Linked DNA regions of Homo sapiens: region 1 is linked to region 2. Evidence: fine-mapped expression QTL. A gene starts in region 2. The other region holds a variant in brackets. All regions are shown on one strand. Distances are from middle to middle.

Evidence for each region. PIP is the estimated chance that this variant, and not a neighbour inherited with it, causes the effect.
Region 1: its variant is fine-mapped to the expression of ZC2HC1A in tibial nerve (GTEx, PIP above 0.99).

What each region holds. Positions count from the first base shown.
Region 1 is chr8:78,699,175-78,709,981 of GRCh38, forward strand. All of the region lies in intron 7 of ZC2HC1A (zinc finger C2HC-type containing 1A), which reads left to right. It also overlaps a transcript of IL7 not described here. Among named protein-coding and RNA genes, the nearest start is that of ZC2HC1A, 38 kb to the left of the region's middle. The variant G/A (reference allele first, on the strand shown) is at 5,904.
Region 2 is chr8:78,660,370-78,671,176 of GRCh38, forward strand. ZC2HC1A (zinc finger C2HC-type containing 1A) reads left to right here and starts at 5,720. Exons shown (of 9, transcript NM_016010.3): 1 at 5,720-5,795. The coding sequence starts at 5,780. It overlaps LOC105375911 (a long non-coding RNA gene), which reads right to left and starts at 5,610. Exons shown (of 4, transcript XR_007060972.1): 1 at 4,636-5,610. RefSeq lists enhancers at 4,843-5,351, 5,352-5,859, 5,824-5,873 and a silencer at 5,534-5,753.

The DNA.
Region 1 (10,807 bases), 39 kb after region 2:
AAGCAGTGGGGTGATTCTCTTAATTTAATCCTTTTTTATATTTTTCTACTGTTATATTTACATGGCTTTTAATGAAGTATATAATTAAACTTTCAATAGTTATGGGAAAAATTGTAACAGTGGAGATATTAATATAGAGCCATATATTTTTAGAAATTTACTTATTTTTTATTTTGATAAATCAGAAAATTAAGGGATTACCACAGGACCATTAGAATGAAGGTGTATGTCTATATCTTTACATATACTGGTTCAGTTGATTAATGAAATACAGCACACATTATTTTCTTTTTTTAATTTTAACTTTTAAGTTCAGGGATACAAGTGCAGGTTTGTTACATAGGTAAACTTGTGTCATAGGGAGTTTGTTGTATGCATTATTTCATCATCCAGGTATTAAGCCTAGTACCCATCAGTTATTTTTCCTGATTCTCTCTCTCCTCTTATCCTCCACCCTCCAAAAGACTCCAGTACGTGTTGTTCCCCTCTATGTGTCCATGTAGTCTCATAATTTAGCTTCCACTTATAAGTGAGAACATGCAGTATTTGGTTTTCTGTTCCTGTGTTAGTTTCCTAAGGATAATGGCCTCCAGCTCCATTCATGTCCCTCCTAAGGACATGATCTAATTCCTTTTTATGGCTGCATAGTATTCCATGGTGTTTATGTACTATATTTTCTTTATCCAGTATATCATTGATGGACATTTAGGTTGATTCCATGTCTTCAGTATTATGAATAGTGCTGCAGTGAACATATGTGTGTGTCTTTATAATAGAATGATATATATTCTTCTGGGTATATACTCAGTAATGGGATTGCTGGGGGAAATGGTAGTTCTGTCTTTAGGTCTTTGAGGAATTGCCACACTGTCTTTCACAGTGGCTGAAGTAATTTACATTCCCACCAGCAATGTATAAGCATTCCTTTTTTCTCCACAACCTCACCAGTGTCTGTTATTTTTTGTCTTTTTAACAGCAGCCATTCTGACTAGTGTGAGATAATACCTCATTGTGGTTTTGATTTGCGTTTCTCTAATGATCAGTGATGTTGAGCTTTTTTTCATATGACAGTTGACCGCATGTATGTCTTCTTTTGAAAAGTGTCTGTTCATGTCTGTTGTCCACTTTTTAATGGGATTGTTTGTTTTTTTTCTTGTAAGTTTCTTTTTTTCTTGTAAGTTTGTTTTTTTCTTGTAAGTTTGTTTGTTAAATTATAGATGCTGGGTATTAGACTTTTGTTGGATGCATAATTTGCAAATATTTGCTCCCATTCTGTAGGTTGTCTGTTTACTCTGTTGATAGTTTCTTTTGCTATGCAGAAACTCTTTAGTTTAATTACAGCCCATTTGTCAATTTGTGTTTTTGTTGCAATTGCTTTTGGCATCTTCATTATAAAATCTTTGCTGCTGCCTGTGCCCTGAATGGTATTGGCTAGGTTGTCTTCCAGGGTTTTTATAGTTTTTGGTTTTACATTAGTCTTTAATCCATCTTGTGTTAATTTTTGTATATGGTGGAAGGAAGGGATCCAGTTTCAGTCTTCTGCATATTGCTAGCCAATTATCCCAGCACCTTTTATTAAATAGGGAATCCTTTTTCCATTGCTTATTTTTGTCAGGTTTGTCAAATATCAGATAGTAGTAGGTGTGTGGTCTTACTTCTGGGCTTGCTATTCTGTTCCACTGGTCCATGTTCCAGTACCATGCTGTTTTGATTACTGTAGCCCTGTAGTATAGCTGGAAGTCAGGCAGCATGATGCCTCCAGCATTGTTCTTTTTGCTTAGAATTACCTTGGCTAGTTTGACTCATTTTTTATTCTATATTAATGTTGAAATAGTTTTCTCTGGTTCTGTGAAGAATGTCACTGATAGTTTAATGGGAATAGCATTGAATCTATAAATTGCTTTAGGCAGTATCACCATTTTAACAATATTGATTCTCCCTATCCATGAGCATGGAATATTTTTTCATTTATTTGTGTCATCTTTAATTTCTTTGAGCATTGGCTTGTAGTCCTCCTTGTATAGATCTTTCACCTCCCCAGTTACCTGTATTCTTAGGTATTTTATTCTTTTTGTGGCAATTGTGAATGGGAGTTTGTTCCTGATTTGGCTCTCTGCTTAGCTGTTATTAGTGTATAGGAATGCTAGTGATTTTTGCACATTGATTTTAGAATCCTGAGACTTTGCTAAAGTTGCTTATCAGGTTAAGAAGCTTTTGGGCTGATATAATGGGGTTTTCTAGATACATGATCATGTCATCTGCCAGCAGGGATAGTTTGACTTCCTCTCTTCCTATTTGGATGCCCCTTTATTTCTTTCTCTTGCCTGATTGCACTGGCCAGAACTTCCAAAACTATGTTGAATAGGAGTGGTGAGAAAGGGCATCTTTGTCTTGTGCCAGTTTTCAAGGGGAATGCTTCCAGCTTTTTCCCATTCAGTATGATGTTGGCTGTGGATTCGTCATAAGTGGCTAATATTTTGAGGTATGTTCCTGCAATACCTAGTTTATTGAGAGTTTTTAACGTGAAGGGATGTTGAATTTTATTGAAAACCTTTTCGTCATCTATTAAGATAATCATGTGCTTTTTGTCTTTAATTTTGTTGTGATGAATAGCATTTATTGATTTGCATATGCGGAGTCAACCTTGCATCCCAGGGATGAAGCCTACTTGATCCTGGTGGATAAGCTTGTTGATGTGCTGCTGGATTTGATTTGCTAGTATTTTGTTGATGTTTATCAAGGTTATTGGCCTGAAGTTTCCTTTTTTGTTGTGTCTCTGCCAGGTTTTGGTATCAGGGTGATGCTGGCCTTATAGAATGAACTAGAGTTGAGTCCCTTCTTCTCAATTTTTTGGAATAATATCAGTAGGAATTGTACCAGTTCTTTGTGCATCTAGTAGAATTCAGCTGTGAATCCATCTGGTCCTGGGCTTTTTTCAATTGGTAAGCTATTTATTACTGCCTCAGTTTCAGAACTCGTTATTTGTCTGTTCAGGGATTCAATTTCTTCCTGGTTCAGTCTTGGGAGGGTGTAGGTGTCCAGGAATTTATCCATTTCTTCTAGATTTTCTAGTTTATGTGTATTGAGGTATTCATAATATTCTGTGATGACTTGTATTTCTATGGGGTCAAGTGGTAATACCCCTCTTGTCATTTCTGATTGTGTTTATTTGAATATTCTCTATTTTCTTCTTTTTAGTGTAGCTAGCAGCCTATATATTTTATCAATTTTTTAAAAAGCAGCTCCTAGATTTGTTGATCTTTTGAATGGTTTTTCATGTATCTTCTTCAGTTTAGCTCTGATTTTGACTATTTCTTGTCTTCTGCTAGCTTTGGGATTTGTTTGTTCTTGTTTTTCTAGTTCTTTTAGTTGTGATCTTTGGTTGTTAACTTGAGATCTTTCTAACTTTTGATGTGGGCATTTAGTCCTATAAATTTCCCTTTTACACTGCCTTAGCTGTGTTCTAGAGAGTCTGGTATGTTGTTTCTTTGTACTCTAAGTTTCAAAGCACTTCCCGATTTCTGCGTTAATTTCATTATTTATCCAAAAATCATTCAGGAGAAGGTTATTCAATTTATATGTAGTTGTAGGGTTTTGAGTTAATTTCTTAATCTTGATTTCTAATTTAATTGTTCTGTGGTTTGAGAGAATATTTGTTATGATTTCAGTTCTTTTGCTTTTACTGAGGATGTTTTACATCCAATTATGTGATCAATTTTATTTTATTTTATTTTATTTTTGAGATGGAGTTTCACTCTGTCGCCCAGGCTATAGTGCTGTGGCATGATCTTGGCTCGCTGCAACCTCTGCCTCCTGGGTTCAAGCGATTCTCCTGCCTCAGCCTCTCGAGCAGCTGGGATTACAGGGATGTGCCACCACACCTGGCTAATTTTTGTATTTTTAGTAGAGATAGGGTTTCCTCATGTTGGCCAGGCCAGTCTCAAACCCCTAACCTCAGGTCATCTGCCTGTCTCAGCCTCCCAAAGTGTTAGGATTACTGGCATGAGCCACCGCGCCTGGCCCATGTGATCAATTTTAGAGTATGTGCCAGATGGTGATGAGAACACTATTCTGTTGTTTTAGGGTGGAGAATTCTGTAAATATCTATCAGGTCCATTTGATCCAGTGCTGAGTTCAGGTCCTAAATATTTATTTGTTAATTATCTGTCTTGATAATCTGTCTAATATTGTCAGTGAGGTGTTAAAGTCTCCCACTATTATCGTGTGAGAGTCTAAGTCTCATTGAAGGTCTCTAAGAACTTGGTTTATGAATCTGAGTGCTCCTGTGTTGGGTACATTTGTATTTAGGATAGTTAACTTTTCTTGTTAAATTGAACCCTTTACCATTATGTAATACCCTTCTTTTTTTTTTTTTTTTAAATCTTTGTTGGTTTAAAGTCTGTTTTATCAGAAATTAGGAGTACAACCCCTGCTTTTTTCTGTTTTCCATTTGCTTGGTAAATTTTTCTCCATCCCTTTATTTTGATCCCATGTGTGTCATTGCATGAGATGGGTCTCTTGAAGACAGCATACCAATGGATCGTGGTTCTTTATCAAAATACTTGCCACTCTGTGTCTTTTAATTGGGTCATTTAGCCCATTTACATTTAAGACTAGTATTGATGTGTGTGGATTTGATTGTCATAATGATGCTAGCTGGTTATTTGGCAGACTTGTTTATGTAACTAACAGTTTTACAGTATTACTGGTCTGTGTACCTCATTGAGTTTTTGTAGTGGCTCGTAATTGTCTTTTCTTTCCATATTTAGTGCTTCCTTCAGGAGCTCTTGTAAGGCAGGTCTGGTGGTAACAAATTCCTACAGCATTTGCTGGTCTGAAAAAGGTTTTATTTCTCCTTCACTTATGAAGCTTAGTTTGGCCTGATATGAAATTTTGAGTTGGAATTTCTTTTCTTTAAGAATGTTAGCCAGGTGTGGTGGCTCACGCCTGTAATCCCAGCACTTTGGGAGACCGAGGCGAGCGGATCACCTGAGGTCAGGAGTTCAAGACCAGCCTGACCAATGTGGTGAAAGCCTGTCTCTATTTAAAAAAAAAATACAAAAATTAGCCGGGTGTGGTTGTGTGCACCTGTAGTCCCAGCTACTTGGGAGGCTGAGGCAGGAGAATTGCTCGAACCCAGGAGGCAGAGGTTGCAGTGAGCCGAGATTGCGCCATTGTACTCCAGCCTGGGTGACAGAGTGAGACTCCATCTCAAAAAAAAAAAAAAAAAAAGAATGTTAAATATTGGTCCCCAATATCTTCTGGCTTGTAGGGTTTCCACTGAGAGGTCTGCTGTTAGTCTGATGGGCTTTCCTTTGTAGGTGACCTGGCCTTTCTCTCTAGCTGCCTTTAACATTTCTTCTTTCATTTCAGTCTTGGAGAATCTGATGATTATGTGTCTTGTGGATGATCATCTCATGAGTATCTTACTGGGGTTCTCTACATTTCCTGAATTTGAATGTTGGCCCATCTAGCTAGGTTAGGAAAGTTCTCATGGATGACATCCTGAAATATGTTTTTCAAATTGGTGCCATTCTCCTCATCTCTTTCAGATATACCGGTCAGTCATAGATTTGGTCTTTTTATATAATGTCACACTTCTTGGAGCTTTTGTTCATTCCTTTTCATCCTTTTTTTCTCTATTCTTGTCAGCGTGTCTTATTTCAGAAAGCCAGTCTTCAAGCTCTGAGATTTGTTCTTCGCTTGGTCTCTTCTGCTATTAATACTTGTGATTCCATTATGAAATTCTTGTAGTGTGTTTTTCAGCTTTATCAGGTTGGTTATGTTCTTCTCTATACTGGCTATTTCATCTGTTTGCTCCTGCAGTGTTTTATCATGATTTTTAGCTTCCTTTCATTGGATTACAATGTATTGCTTTAGCTCAGTGAACTTCGTTCCTGTCC[G/A]TATCCTGAATTCTGCTTCTTTCATTTCAGCTGTCTCAGCCTCAGCCTGATTCTGAGGAGATTCTCAGCCTGATTCCTGTTGGAGAGGTGATGCGGTCACTTGGAGGAAAAGAGGGCACTCTGGCTTTTTAAGTTTTCAGCATACTTGTGCTGATTCTTTCTCATCTTTGTGAGCTTACCTAACTTCAGTCTTTGAGGCTGCTTACCTTTGGATGGGTTTGTTTTTTTGAACAACTCTGGCTACTTTTCCATAGGGCTGCTTGTGTATGCTGGGTGTCCACTCCAGTCACTAGTCACCTTGGATTTTTCAGTAGCTGGAGGTGTCACCAGTGAAGGCTACAAATCAGCAAAGGTAGTGGCCTGCCCCTCCTCCTGGGAGCTTCATTTTAGGGATGCCTCAAACCTCTGTCAGCCAAAGAACACCTGTGGGTGTGGCTGAAGACTCCAGTTGGGAGGCTCCACCTGGTGATGAGGAATGGGACTGGGAACCTGCTTAATAAAGCAGTCTGGCCACATTTTTATGGGACCACTGTGGTGTGCTGTTGTACCACTTCCACCTCTGGGTCGGCATGGGCTCTCCAAACCCCAGAGACTGAAACTGCTAAGTTGCCCAAACAGCAAAGATGATGGCCTGCACACCCTGTGGGAGTTCTATCCCAGGGACTTTGCAAATCTCTGTAGGCCAGAGAACACCTGCAGGGCTGGCTGGAGGTCCCAGTTGGGAGGTTCTTTCCAGTGAGGAGGGGCAATATTGGGGACTTACTTAAAGAAGCAGTGTGGCCACACTTTCCTAGAGCAGCTGTGTTGTGCTGGGTTACCACTTTCGTCCCAGTTGGCTTTGGCTCTCTGTGGGCCAGAGAATACCAGCAGGGATGGTTGGAGGTCCCAGTTGTGAGGTCCTGCTCTGTGATGAGGAATGGATTGGGAACCTGCTTAACCAGCAGTCTGACCACATTTTGGTAAAGAAGTCATGCTATGCTGGGGAATCCTCTCTGCCTCTGGTTGGTTTGTACTCTCCAAAGCCTGCAGAACAGCTGAGTCACCCAAACAGCAAAGATGGCAGCCTGTCCCTTCCCCTGGGAGTTCCATCCCAGGTAGGCTCAAAACTGCTACTGGTGGCTGGCTGGAATTCCAAGCCAGTGGGTCTTATCCTGTGAGGTGTTATGAAAGTGAGACCTGCAGACTGTCTCTACTTGGTCCTCTTGATTCAGCCTTTTTTCCTAAGGGTATGTACGGGGGTCTAACATCCTGCTTTGCTGGAGTTGCAGTTACTTTTGCTGGGAAGTTTGGAGTTCCTGGGTCTTTGCCTGTGCCGGAGCAGCTGCTCTGCCAAGACTCCCCATATCTGTATGTCAGACTGAAGGCTCTAGTGGAGTGGCTTCACAAGGGCGTCTCTTGACCCAAGGGTTGCAAAGATCCGTTGGAGAAGCGTGGTTTCCCAGGGTCACACGTTCACTCACTGCTTCCCTGGGCCAGAGAGGTTCACCTTGCTCTGTGTCGCTCCAAGGTGGGCTGTCATCCTGCCTCTCTTTTCTTTGTTCTCTGTGGGTCAAGTTGTTTCCTTGATTAGTCCCAATGCAAGTACATGGATGTTTCAGATGAAGGTGCTGTATTTACTCACCCCTTTTCCTGTTATTTTCAAGTGTAAGTTATATGTGGCTCACATTCATTTTGGTTTTTATGTGGGAAATATATACAAAGATATCTGTCAAATGATAGTAACTACATTTTGCTTCTCAATTCAGACTACATAGAAAATGGAAGACCTAAAGGAATATAATGTAATTATCATTATAGAAAAGGAAAAAAAAATCAACCAACAATATCTTTTGAGTTAAGTGATTTTTCTTATTGTTGTGCTTCCAAAAACAAGAGACAGGCTATCCATAAGAAAGAGACAGTTTATCAGTAGATCAGGTAGTTGAAAAGTAAAAAAATTTTATCTTTTAGTGGTAAGAAACTGATCTGATTTATTTTCTTCTCCAATGAGTTGACTCATTGGATGATTAAGTGAAGTATAGACATAGCAATATGTGCTTTAATTTTACAAAGTCATTTTACCATATCACAGAGAATTGGCCTCCATGTTAGGTAACAATATTTGTTCATAGTGTTGTTTATAGTTTCACTTACAGTTGATCATAGATTAAAAGCTGATATTTTTCAGTATTTCTATAGTACTGGCAATTTTATCAGTTGGCAATATTAAATTGTACTGACACAGTATTCCTAGATAGGACGTGTAAAGCTGGCTGGTGTAATGAAGAGAGGCGCTGACCTTGGAGTTAGAAGACTAGGTTTCTGCATCATAATCTGCCACTAAATAGCTTTGGGCATGTATCTCTTTGTCATGCTGTGACATATTGTCTGACTGTGACAACATCTGTGACTCTGGTTAGACCTTGACAACTGATCCAAGAAAATCTGACCAACATACCTGGTTACTAATGGAAAATATGCTTTTGCTAACAAGCAGAGATTTTGAGTACAATAATTTTGTCAGTTGTGCATTGCTTATGATGAATGCCATGAAGAATACATATTTTTTGGCTATCCCACATCATATATAACTGTCAATCATACCTGTTCAAATTCTGATTGTCCATTCTGTATAAGATCCTTGCAGATTAAAGGAAGCTTTCCAACTACTGGAAAGAGAGCTGTGGAGCTCATTTCTACCAATATATTACTATATTAACTGGAACATTGTGTTACTGTATTAAATTAGAACCATTCATAGCTGTCTATTTAGTGACAGAGTTCCTTCCTTTTTTTTTCTTTTTTTTTTTTTAAGAATTAGTGAAGTAATGATTTGTTTCTCTTGCTAGATTGTAAGCTCCATGATGGCAAAGACTATGTCTGCCTTGCTTCCATTTGTAACTAAAATCTAGCAGAATGCCTAGGCTAACAAAAAATTTTTGGTTAAGTGAAAAAAGATAATAAATTAATTCCCTCATCTGTTAATCTATTGGCATGTCACAGAATTATCATCTGGTACCAGTGAAAGAATTACTTAAAGTTTGTATGACAACTGTTATTTCGATTTATACAGATGATTCAGGATTGAGTAAAGGTTGAATTAAGACATTTGGTCAGGTGTAATGCTCAATAAATTGAGCATTCGCTGAGATTAGTAAATGCTGTTATTTCAGTGGATTGCAATTATTTAAAGTCTGGTGTATGTAATCTTTATTGTAGTCCACTTTAATCAGGCATACCAGTGATCTGTAATAGAATCATGCCACAAAGAGATTTATTTTTACACTCAGAAAAATTCTCATATGTTTGGTTGTTTGCTTCTAGACAGTTTGTGGATTAGGCCAGGTGCAGTGCCTCACACCTGTAATCCCAACACTTTGGGAGAGTGAGGTGGGAGAGTCGCTTGAACCCAGGAGTTTGAGACTTGCCTGGGCAACATAGTAAGAACTCGTCTCCATTAAAAAAACAAAAACAAAAACAACCTTTTTAAACCTTTTTTTAAATGTAAAAAAAAGCAATCAAATCAATTTCTAGGTCAATTTTAACAGATTTGTTTAAAAAACAACAAAACACACCCAAGTAGAAAGTTTTTCCCTTCTTCTAAAAGATGATTATCTTTTTTTTTTCTTTTTTTTTTTTTTGAGATGGAGTTTTGCTCTTGTTGCCCAGGCTGGAGTGCAATGGTGCGATCTTGGCTCACCGTAACCTCCGCCTCCTGGATTCAAGTGATTCTGCTGCCTCAGCCTCCCCATTAGCTGGGACAGGTGTGTGCTACCATGTCTGGCTAATTTTGAATTTTTATGGGTTTTCACCATGTTAGGCTGGTCTCAAACTTCCGACCTCAAGTGATCCATCCACCTCGGTTTCCCAAATTGCTGGGATTACAGGCATGAGCCACCACGCCCGGCCAAAAGATGATTATCTTTAATACCAGGAAATTTTAGAAATACAGTGAAACACAGATCTTTTAAATAAATATTTCCCCATTTGAATTGTTCCCTAGAGTTTACACAGTTGTACCTTATTACCAGTTTAAATGGATATCTCAGTTAATAATTTTCAATAGTGAAACTATCAAATATCAGAGATTTACTTCCTTTTAGTTACTATGAAAAGCACATTTACTTTGGAGAGCAACTGTAATACACCTAAAATTAGAGCAACCAAAGGCATGTATGGAGCATTTTTTAATTTAAAAAATTGCATTTTGTTTCTCATACCTTATTTAAAACATTAAGAAGTAAATGTCTTTAGTTTTTGAGTACATTTTTATATGAATAGGAAACATGCTGTTTTCATAATCCAGTCTTTTGATGTGTGTGAAATGAATTTGTGTGGAGCGTTATGTGAATTTTTATGAACTTATCTTTTATTGTTGATCTAGAAATGCTTGTGATAACCTAGAATTCCAGACCTCGGTTTCTTATGTGGATAACAATGATTGGAGATTTTGGATAGGGAGCTAACTTTGCTGTGGAATTGAGATACTAATTATTTGTGTAGGATTGATAAATTTAGGATCAAAAGTAGAGGTATGACACATTTCAAAACTGCCTTAGAGCAGGGGGGTGTTCAATCTTTTGGCTTCCCTGGGCCACACTGAAAGAAGAATTGTCTTGGACCACATATAAAATACACGAACGCTAATGATAGCTGATGAACTAAAAAAAAAAAAAAAAATTTCATAATGTTTTAAGAAAGTTTACGAATTTGTATAGGGCCCCATTCAAAGCCATCTTGGGTGGCATGTGGCCTGTGAGCTGCTGGTTGGACAAGATTGCCTTATAGCATCATAACAACAGAGGTGTGCAAAGATACAAAATACCATCCGGTAAATTCTTTTCCCAATATTATTTCAGAAATCATCTTTTTGTTATATCTCAATCTACAGTACTTGCTACACTCCTACAAGGTACCTAGTAAGC
Region 2 (10,807 bases):
GAAAAAAGCTAAAATTTTACAGATGTATTTTCTGATATTAAACTATACTTTCATTCTTGGTATAGATTTTATTTAATAATAATTTGGTTGAATATGGTTTGCTAACATCTTTTTTATGACTTTTGTATATACAATATACAGACAATCCTATAATTTTTCATATATTGCTTTTATATTGCTTGGAGTCAGAATTATGCTAATGTTAAAAAATTAATTATAAGCTTTTATAAGCTTTTCCTCTTTTTAAATTTTATTGAAAATGTGGACACAATATAAATTATCTGTGTCTTAAAGTTTGGTAAAACTCACCTGCAAATCTTTCTCCACCTAGGGCATTAAAGTGAAGAGATGTCTTTACCATTTCAATTTATTAACAGTTTTCATTCTACTCAAGTTTCTTGTCACAATTTTTAATTTTATCCAGAATGATATCCATTTCCTCTGAGTTTTTACATTTATAGAAACAAAGCTGTTCATAATATTTTTGTATTTGTAATTCTGTGACGTCTATATTTACTTTTTCTGTTTAGAGATAGTTTTGGAAAAATGGACTCATTATATGCAGAATACAGTTGATTCCTAACACATATAATATACAAAGGTGACTCCTGATGGGTTGAAAACCTCATTAAGAAAGATAAAAAGGATAGCATTAATACAAAAACATGTGAGCAAATACCATCAATAATCTAGAATCTGAAGAAAACTTTAATTAAAAAATGCACAATTCATAAAGAAAATATATTGACAGATTTTATAGAATTAATGTTATGGGCTTCTGTTCAGTGAAAGGTATCATAGACAAAATTATCAAGTATTTGGCAAACTGGAAAAGATTTTTTAAATAATTGAAATTAGCAGGGGTCAACATCTAGAATACACAAGGAATTTACATATCCATAAGAAAAAGATGAGAATTTCAATATACAAAACCAGGCAATTCATTGAAAGTCAAATCTGAATTAGCGAGTATATGAAGAAAAGACCAACTCTTGATTAAAAAATTAGAGCTAAGTCAGCTATTACTGAGCCATAGAAAGATGAGTGCTCTGCACTGCTGATGGGAATGTACACTGGTATAGCTATTGTAGAGAGAAATCTAGGTGTACTTAGTGGAAGTGAATATGATCCAGTAAACTATTCCAAGGATGCATCTCAGAGAAACTTGAGCCCAGGTTCATAAGGGGACAAGCACAAAGATGTTCATTGTAGCAGCAGTTAGAACCAACTCAGTGCCCATCACTACAGAAATGAGTAAGTAAGATGTGGTGGTGTATGCATACGGTAAAATGCTATTATCCAACATCAGAAGCAATAAACTTGTATTTCATACAGTGGCATGGATGAATCTCTGAATGAATGACAAAAAACATTAAATTCAAAAATTAAATAATGAAAATTACTTAAAAATTAAAATTACAAACAGAATGAAAGTCATAGACTAATGCCATTTATGTAAATTAAAAACAGATGCATATATAAAACAGCACCATATGTGTTTCAAAGAATCACACCTATCCAAAGACATCTATATGTAATAGAATTGTGCCTATAGTGAGGAGGCTGGTAAATTGTGTGAAAATGGGGTATGAATGACAAATAATAAAAAGAAAATAAAAGAGATACCTTGGCATGGATAGTTGAAGTATGTACTGTGTGTTAGTGAGTATCATTAACTCAACACCTTGCCCCTAAGATTAAAAAGATATAAATTATATAGCCATAATGCTTGTGCTGTATAATGTAAAGAGAAACAAATGTTACACATGAACCAAAATAGATACAAATATTTTCCTTGCTTCTTTAGATTGTCCCAAAACATGCCAGGCTTGCATCATTTTCTTAAGGAGGATTATGCCATGTTTCCCTCATCCTCAGTGATCTCTACCTATCCTATGACACTCTTCAAGACACAATTTAAGTTCTACTTCTAAAAAACCTTTAAAATTGTTCCATTCATGTAAATGACTTCCTGTAACCAATTGCTTTTATAAGCTGTACCACAACATCTAAAACTTAATACTATTAACAACTCTTTTGCCCTGTATTATGTCTTGCTCACGGTTTCCTTTACTAGATGTTAACTTTCTAGAGATCAGAGAGATTTCTTTGAAGCTTTCTGTTGTGCCTAGAGCAGTGTTGTACTCAAGGTTGAAAGATCTCAATTTCTTATTGGTCTATGAATGTTATTTTCAGTTAAAAAGATCACATGGCAGGTAAAAAAAATATGCACAGACAAATACTTAAAAACGTAAGAAAAGAAGCTGAGCTTCATTCATTTTGGTAACTGGCTAGTGATATAATAGACTTGAAGCACAGAAGGTACTCAACAAATATTTGTTGAAAGAATGCATCAGAAAAATGGACTAGTCTAGAGAGGACCTCAATAAACATTTTGGTTAATAGATTTTTAGTTAAGATTTGAAATTGTGATGCAAAGGGATGGATAGGCAAGATCATAGCCGAAACTTGAAAAAAAAAACTGATCTTTTTGCAGCTGAAAATTAGTTTGAAAGTAGGGAAGCATAGAGCTAGAATAATTGCTATCACACTATGAATGGAATAGCCTTTCAATCAATGTAGTAGGTAAAGTTTGCTTTAAGTTCCTCACTTTTTTAAAGCCCCTCTTTCTTTTCTTGATGTTTCTTGTCTAGGACATTTTTCCTTCAATAAATCTTCACCCGTGACAGCCTACCTATATGCTTTCTGATTATTCCAGGCCATGAGAAACTATCACTATTTTCCCCCTGAACACTTAGAAAATTTTATTTTTACTTCAAATAAAACTAGCAAGAGCCAACTCAGAATATGCTTCCTCCCTCTAGAACAGTTTTAAGGGAAATATTTTCTTATGTTTTTGATGAAAATTATCATTTTCTTATGATTACCAAATGTATGAATTATTTTTATATGCTAAATTGTGGTAGGTTATTCCTCTTCTGGTCATGGAAGGAAGAAATGTCCTACATAGTGGAGGTGATAAACTGAGTTCTCACCGAGACTCAGAATCTCATTTAGTTGTGCTCTGCAAATGATATGAATGAGAACCAATGGCTTTCTCTAAAAGGGGACTTGAACTTCGTGTGGGATTTAAGAGACTGGAGCTTTGAAACAAGAAGCTATATGCAGCTTGCTCAGCTTTTTGGGATGTGCAGAATAGATGTGGATCTGCTTAAGGGAATGGTGGTTGAAAGCAATATAATGCAAAGTGGAAAGAATCAAGGTATGATGTAATAAAACACAGATACAATATCTATTTCAGTTAAGTACTAGTTTTGTGATCTTGACCAAGTCAGAAACATCTCTGAAAGTTTGTTTTCCTTTTTGTATGATAAGGAGGTCAGAAGATCTCGAATTCTTATTGATCTATAAATGTTATTTTCAGTTAACAAGATCACATGGCAGGTAGAAAAATTATGTACAGGTAAGTGCTTAAAAACATGAGAAGAAGCTGAGTTTCATTCATTTGAGTAACTGGCTAGTGATAAAATGGACTTGAAGCATAGAAGGTACTCAACAAACATTTGTTGAATGAATGCATGCCGAAAAATGGATTAGACTGGAGAGGAAGTAATGTCATGATACAGTGCCAAGACAAGACTCTCAGGCTAGGTATGTAGGCGGCAGAGGAAAGAACTTATTGAAGGCAGATAGGAAGAAGTCCTCTTTACTCAGGGGTCAGAATCAGGGAAAAGCTGCAGGAGCCAGGGTAGCTGTAGCGTAAAAGTTATGAAGAGACCAAAAGCATAAAAGTTATGAAGATACCTGTAGGGAAGACTAGCAATCATGTTTTAGAGAATTAAGATTCACAATAGAAATGCCTACTCAAATATATGTTAAACAACATGTCTGAACGCTTGGGTTTACACTTGAGGCAGCTATAATAAAAGGCAAGGCAAGGAAAGGGAGTGAGGAGCCCAATCAAATCACCATAGGCTTTAGAATTTAACAGACAAGAGTGTAGCCAAGCTCTACCATCCACTAATAATACAAATATTGACAAAATATTAATTGCTCTGAGACATCTAGAAAATGAACATTTTAATTCTGATAAATGAAGATTGTAGTATCTACTTTGTAGATTTCTTTTGAAGATTTGTGAATATATGAAAATGGCCTAAAACATGCCTCACATGATTTATTCTTTAATGCTATTTTTATTATTTTTAATGTTACTGTAGATTTTATGTCGAATAAGGTATCAGCCAACTCAATATTCGTCTTGCCTTCAGTGAAAGAACTTGTAATTTGTAAAATAATGGCTTCCTTATTTTTGTATTTTCTTCTGTGTGCTTTTTTTTCTCCTTAATGCTCTTTTAAAAGGCCTTCCCTCCCAACCAAAAATTCTACCTTTGCCTTAGTAGCACTAAGGAAGAAAAAGGACCTTTCCGCAGCACCCAGTCTAGAGTAGCTTATTGCCTGCAAGGCTATGGGTTGGCCAAGGAGGCCCAGGATCTCAGAGAAGCAGAAGAGCCAGGGGAACCAGGGAAGGGCGGAGGGAGTCATTGAGGCATGGTTGAAGTGGTCTTTACATGGCTCCACACAACAGATGGACTCTACCACATTCAAATGCACTTGGAGCACCTTCTCAGTAAGAGATGATGCCCCCTCAAGTGTTTGCTTGTTTAAACATACCTTCATGTGAGTGGAGAGTAGGAGGAATCCTGCTTCCTGAAGGTAACTGATTTCATAGTAGATGAAGTTAGATATGAAGTTAAACTCTTCAATTAAACAGATTAACAATAACATTAATCCGAGGTTTGTTATGGACAACACATTAATACTGGTAACTTGCCAGTAGATACGCTATAGTCAGCAAACAGTACAGCTTGTTTACGATTGCTAAATCAAATTTTCAAAGAAATGTAGTTCTGGTAATTGTAAGCAAAACCGTTAAAATGGTCTGAGTTAGTTTTGAAGTTACTTTCATCTTCAGGAGGTTTTGAACTCTGTTAGAGACGGGCGGGCCTCATTCTGTCAGGTTGTAGGTTAATTCCCCAACTCAAACTTCCCCGATCAAACATTGTCAGGCCAGGCGACTGTTTTGGTTTATGGATGATAAAGTATAGGGCCAAGGTAGGCCAAGAGTAGAAGACAGAGGGAGGGCTGGGTTTCACTTCTAATTTTTGGCCCAAGCTTTCATGGTGAGGAAACTGTTTTCAAGGGCTTAGAGCAATCGCAGTTCCACAATCGCAGATAGAAAGTATGATTTCTCTGGAAAAAAAGTGTCTTAACCTATGAAGCTGTGTGTGAAGATCAAGTGTAGGGGATACGCTGAGGTCAAGTCATGCGACCAAAGACCGGAAAACGGAGATTGCTGCATGCAAGCGTGCTGGGCGTTTGTTTGGTTTGCTTGCCTGCTTAAAGTATCCACTGGGAGGGATGGCGGCTAGAAGTCAGAGGCATTGACTGATTGAGGAACTGGTGAAGCGGAGCCCATGAGGTGCTGAGGTACTCTAAATAGGAGGATAAGGTATGAGGCAAAACAAGGCTGGAGTCAAACAAAGGCGCCGTTGCATCGCAGATTGCAACCTGAAGCGGCTCCCGGCTCCCTGGAGAGTAACCCGGAGAGACGGACAGGGGTGGCAGCCAGGAGGAGACCGCAGGAACCTCGCCTCCGCCGCGGCCCCGCCCCCACGGATCCCCGCCCCCGCAGTTGCGGAACCAATGGGAGCTCGGAATGTTAGCGGGTGGGAGGTGCGGCTGGGTTGCTACAGCCAGAGCTGGGCGGTGGCGGGCGCTGCTGAAGGAGTCTCGCTGAGCTCGAGGAGGTGGCGCGATGGAGGGACTGGAAGGTGAGGCGATGAAGGGATGAGGGCAGGACGGCTAGAGCGGGCCCGAAACAGCTGGGGACCCTGGACACCAGTAGCAGGAAGGCGAGGGCTGGTTCGGTGCGGCGGACCTCGCCGCGTCCCGCCGCGCCTCCGGAGGCTGGGGCCGAAGGGAACCGGACAGTCCCCGATGCGGTGGAGCTAACGCTACCAGGCTGCCCCGCCTCAGACGGTCTTCAACTGGGCTTTCCCGCCCGGAGCCAGATCCTGCCCCTGGCAAGACGCCTGCACGTCTCTTCCTACCATTTTCTGATCTTGCTTGACTCCTGAGTGCCCTTTTAGTGATCCCAGTCTCTGGCCAGATTTTGTTTTCCTTGTACTGGACTCTCTCCATTATTGTCCACGGCCTTAACACCAACAGGCCACTTTGTGCTGCAGCCCCGGGGTGTGTCTCCAGCCTCGAGCTCCTGACATTCCTTGGCCGATTTCCCTAGGTAACCGGCTTTTTACATTTCGACAGCATCTTCTGTCGGAGGGATGTCAGAGCATCTCCTAAGGAAGTGTCACTGGCCAGCTTTAGAGCCGGTACAATAGATTACCCGGAGGATTTGATGACTTATTCACGGCCGCTGTGTGAGGAAGAGCCTGTATTGGTTCCTTATCTTTGGGTTTATCTTTGTACTGTAACCATGACTCCAGATTTTGCTTTGTTCCCAGTTCTTTCACTTTTTCTCTATTCTGTTTACCCATTTTATCCTGTGTAATGAAAGCATTCACCTAAAAACAAAGGAAGGACAAAAACCACAATAACTAGCATTGGCAACAACAGTTTCAAGATTTTTTAATTTGTTATGATGAAGAACAAACCTTCAGAATTGAAAGATCCTATTGTCTTGATTTAGCTCCTTTCCCCCGTCTCCTAGTTTACACGGATTCAGTTGGAATTAAGAATGAGCAGAAGCTTTTGAGTCTTGTGTATTGTTGCATGCCAGGGAGTAAAATATTCTACATTGTGTGATGAAGTGCAAAGTGGTAGCCGGTAACTTTTTCAGTCACCTATTCACCAAAAAGCAGATGTAATAACATGAGTAGAAGTTTATTTCGTGCTTTTGCTCTGATAAATGATTCTGATAATTTTCCGTTTGTGGACAGCTGCAGTATGCTATGGCCTAATGAAGGTCTTGTTTTTTGCTTATGTGTTTTTGGAAGATAATTCAAGTTTCCATGAAATAAGGAATTGTAATGATAGTACAGTATATTTTACTTTCAAGATACTTTTGTATCTTGGTGGGATTAAAGCATGGGTTATGGAATTCTCATGAGATTATCATATATAATATGATAAGGTTTTATTACATATTATCTATAAAGTGTTTTGAACAGTTTGCAGATTTTTATTATTTTATTCAACATTTGTTATTAAGACAAAGATCATCATCTGATTTTTCACTTATGTATCCTAGGCACCTAAAACAATGTCTGACACAAAGTAGGTACTCAATAAATATTTGTTGTTAAATAAATGTCTATTATGGGCATCTTTTTAGGTTCTAGGTTGCAGCAAAGAATAAAAATGATAAAGCTTTACTCTCATCGAACCTACATTTTAGTGGACCTTACATTTTAACAGTGCTAAGATATTACTATTGAAACCTTACTACGAATGTTTTTAAAATATAATGGAAACCTATTATGACACTCAGTTGCATAGGTGGACAAAGGTAGGATTCTGTATTTATAGGCATATTTTATGGGTCCAGCTTATGATGTTATAGGGCCCAGCTTATGATGTTAATAGTGCTTGCCCTTTACTTTTAGATTTTTTTTTTTTACAAAATAAGATGCTATCATTAACTATAATGTGTTTAATTGTGATAAACTGAGTTGAAATATGTGAAGTTGCCCTAAATTATGTAGGGCAAAACAGTTGAATTCTGGTAATTTCAAGCAGTTCAATCTAATAAAAGCTCTTGAGAATTTTCTGTTGAAGTTAGGATGGTGCCTTTCTCTCCTTCCTCCTTCTCCCCTCTCCCTCCCCTAAGAGATCACACCTTGCAAATATCAAACTCTGAGTCTTAAGGTTACCGTTCATTAATTCATCCATTCTTTCATTCTAGAAACATTGATACAGTGATAGATTAGGTAGTTTCTTACCTCTATTGGAAGTTAAAGTCTAGTACTTTGAAGGTGTTTAATAAATATTATATTGCAGTATCCAGTAAGAAATATTCAAAAGTTTGCTTAATGTGTCAGAGTAATTGCGTAAATATTGTACTCTGGCATTAGACATATGTTTCTAGTTGAAACCAGTTACCAGACATTAATCTTGGCTATAAAACAAGAAAATATATGGACTCTTGAAAATTTCTATTAAAGATAATCTTACTCTTTCTTATAACTTACGTTATTTGCATGTAATCATATACCATTTGTTTTACTTTTGGTCTTCAGGGTCTTTATGCTTCTTGAATAGTCAATAGATGAGGTATTAGGCTCAAACACTATACTTTGAAATGAAATATAAGTTATCTGTTTTTGTAGAATCAATATCTGAGCACTTCTACATTCTGTAGATAGTTATAGCAAAACCTTTTAATTCCTTTTCATCTAATAAAATTTGTGCCCCACAAAATCTATCTAAGGATAATAGAAGTAGTTCTAGACTTGAGAGAGTTCCAATCTCTTATAAGCTTTTTTTATTTGTAAAATGGAGAGATGGTAAAATCTAAGCAGATTTTATCCTTATATACAGTATTGTCATTCCCTTCATATCCCTGATAAATGGTTATAAAAATTGTGGCAGAGATCAGACTGTCCGTTCCTCTTGTGGATTGTTGAAATTATTAGATCTTAGTACTGCCCTCTAAAACTTGATTAGAAGACTGATTGCTCTTCAGTGTAGCCCTTGGTTTAAAGATAGTCGTGTCTCATCAAAATTTCTGTTTTGTTTTATTTTTTCGTAGTATAAATGTATACTAGTTTACTGTATAATTCTTTATCTTTATTAATTTATCTAGCATTTACTGCTTTTTGGTAGTGAGTTGGATGCCAGATATTTTAATAGACAGTATATTGGAGAGGACTGTGTTTGAATCCTTGCTTTGTTTCTTTTTAGCTCTATGATTTGGGCAGTTTACTTAATCTGAACCCTTATTTTCCCTGCTATGAAAAAAATGGAGCTATTAAATATGTAACTACCTAAATTATATTAAGTATTAAATAATGTAATATATGTAAAACATTTAGCTAAGTACCTAGTGCATAGGAGGCCCTCTCAGTGTGTGTTTGTTAGATGGCGAAAATCACAAAAAGCATGTTAGCAGGTCCAGTATAGGTAAAACATAGCATGCTTGGGAGGAGCGAAGGAAACATTGAAGCCAAGAGAGAAAGGACTTTAAAGGTGAAAGAGATTTGTCAGCAGTGGCTCAGACTGTAGAAAGGCCCAGTAGGATGGGGATTCAAAAGAGAGCTTCAGATTTGACAATTAGTAAATAGTAATCCGTTACCTTCCTTTTTAATGTCATTATTGTGTCCTTATTAAACAAACTTTCCCTGATTATCCATACTTCTCCAAGACAGCATTATGACCATCTCTTCTCCCCTTACTTTGTTCTACCTTCATTGTGGTTATCACCATGTAACATTTTATATATTAGTTTTTATTCATTTTTTCCCTGTTAGATCAGTGAAAGCTCTATAAGATCAGAGTATTTGTTTTTTATCATCCTTATACTCCTACCTCCTAGAACAGTTTCTGCCTCATGCTAGGTGCTCAACAAATACTTATTGAATCAAGGAATGAATGTATTTCTTTCTTTCTTTCTTTCTTTCTTTTTTTTTTTTTGATACGGAGTTTCGCTTTTGTTGCCCAGGCTGGAGTGCAGTGGCATGATCTGGGCTCACCACAACCTCCGCCTTCTGGGTTCAAGCGATTCTCCTCCCTCAGCCTCCGGAGTAGCTGGGATTACAGGCATGTGCCACCAAGCCTAGTTAATTTTGTATTTTTAGTAGAGATGGGGTTTCTGCATGTTGGTCAGGCTGATCTCGAACTCCTGACCTCAGGTGGTCTGCCTGCCTCGACGTCCCAAAGTGCTGGGATTACAGGTGTGAGCCAACGCACTCGGCGGAATGGATGTATTTCAATATAGTGCTTGGCCTGATAATGTCTCCCTGCAGTTCAGACAGTGAGTGAATGAGAGGCAGAGAAGGACTAAGCAGAAAATGTAAGTTAGTGTTTCAAAAAATGTGCTCATCAGGACATTGGTGGAGAACATTGGTTTTGGGAGTACAAAGGATTTCTGATAAAATAAATTTGGGCAAATAACAACATACTAAGCTTCTTTTTTTAAGACTAAGGGAGTTCTGCTCTAAGAGAACCCATTTAACTTAGGTTAATGTACCATTTTCCAAACATTTGGCCATGTAGCAAGGGATTCGTGGATAATTCCTAGTATAAATGATGGGTCATGTTCAGACTGGGTAGGAAAGGACATGCAGCCAGGAATGAACTTATTAAGAAAAGCAAGTCACTCTGAGATCAAGATAGTAACTTAGAGAAAGGTAGGAGGTAGAATTCTATGGTTAAAGAGGAAACTTGAGTGTTTTAAAGTCCAGAGTTGGTTGTTTTGGCAGTAGTTTTGCTGAACTAGAGTGTAGGTGACTAAAATGCTGTGAAGGATGAAGGTTGTGTGTTGAGTCGGGTAGGCATTGACTAGGTTAAGACAAAAACTCTTCTAGGATGAGCTGAAAAGGGTAAATCTTCTGAGACACTGGATAATATTGATCTGAAAGTAATTCGATTTTGGAAAGGATATTGGGAAGAAAGTGATATAACATATTTAGTGCTTCAGAAGAAAGATTTGTTGAGTGTTAAAGGAGTCAAATGAACGGTGATAGAATATAAGACTTACCAGCAGTGAGGAGATGGACATGCCACAAGGGAGGCCAGAACTGTTCTTAATTTCCAAGATTTCTTTGAAAATGTTCTCTCATAGTTCTTAAATGTATGCATTTTAAAATGTCACAACTATTTGAAA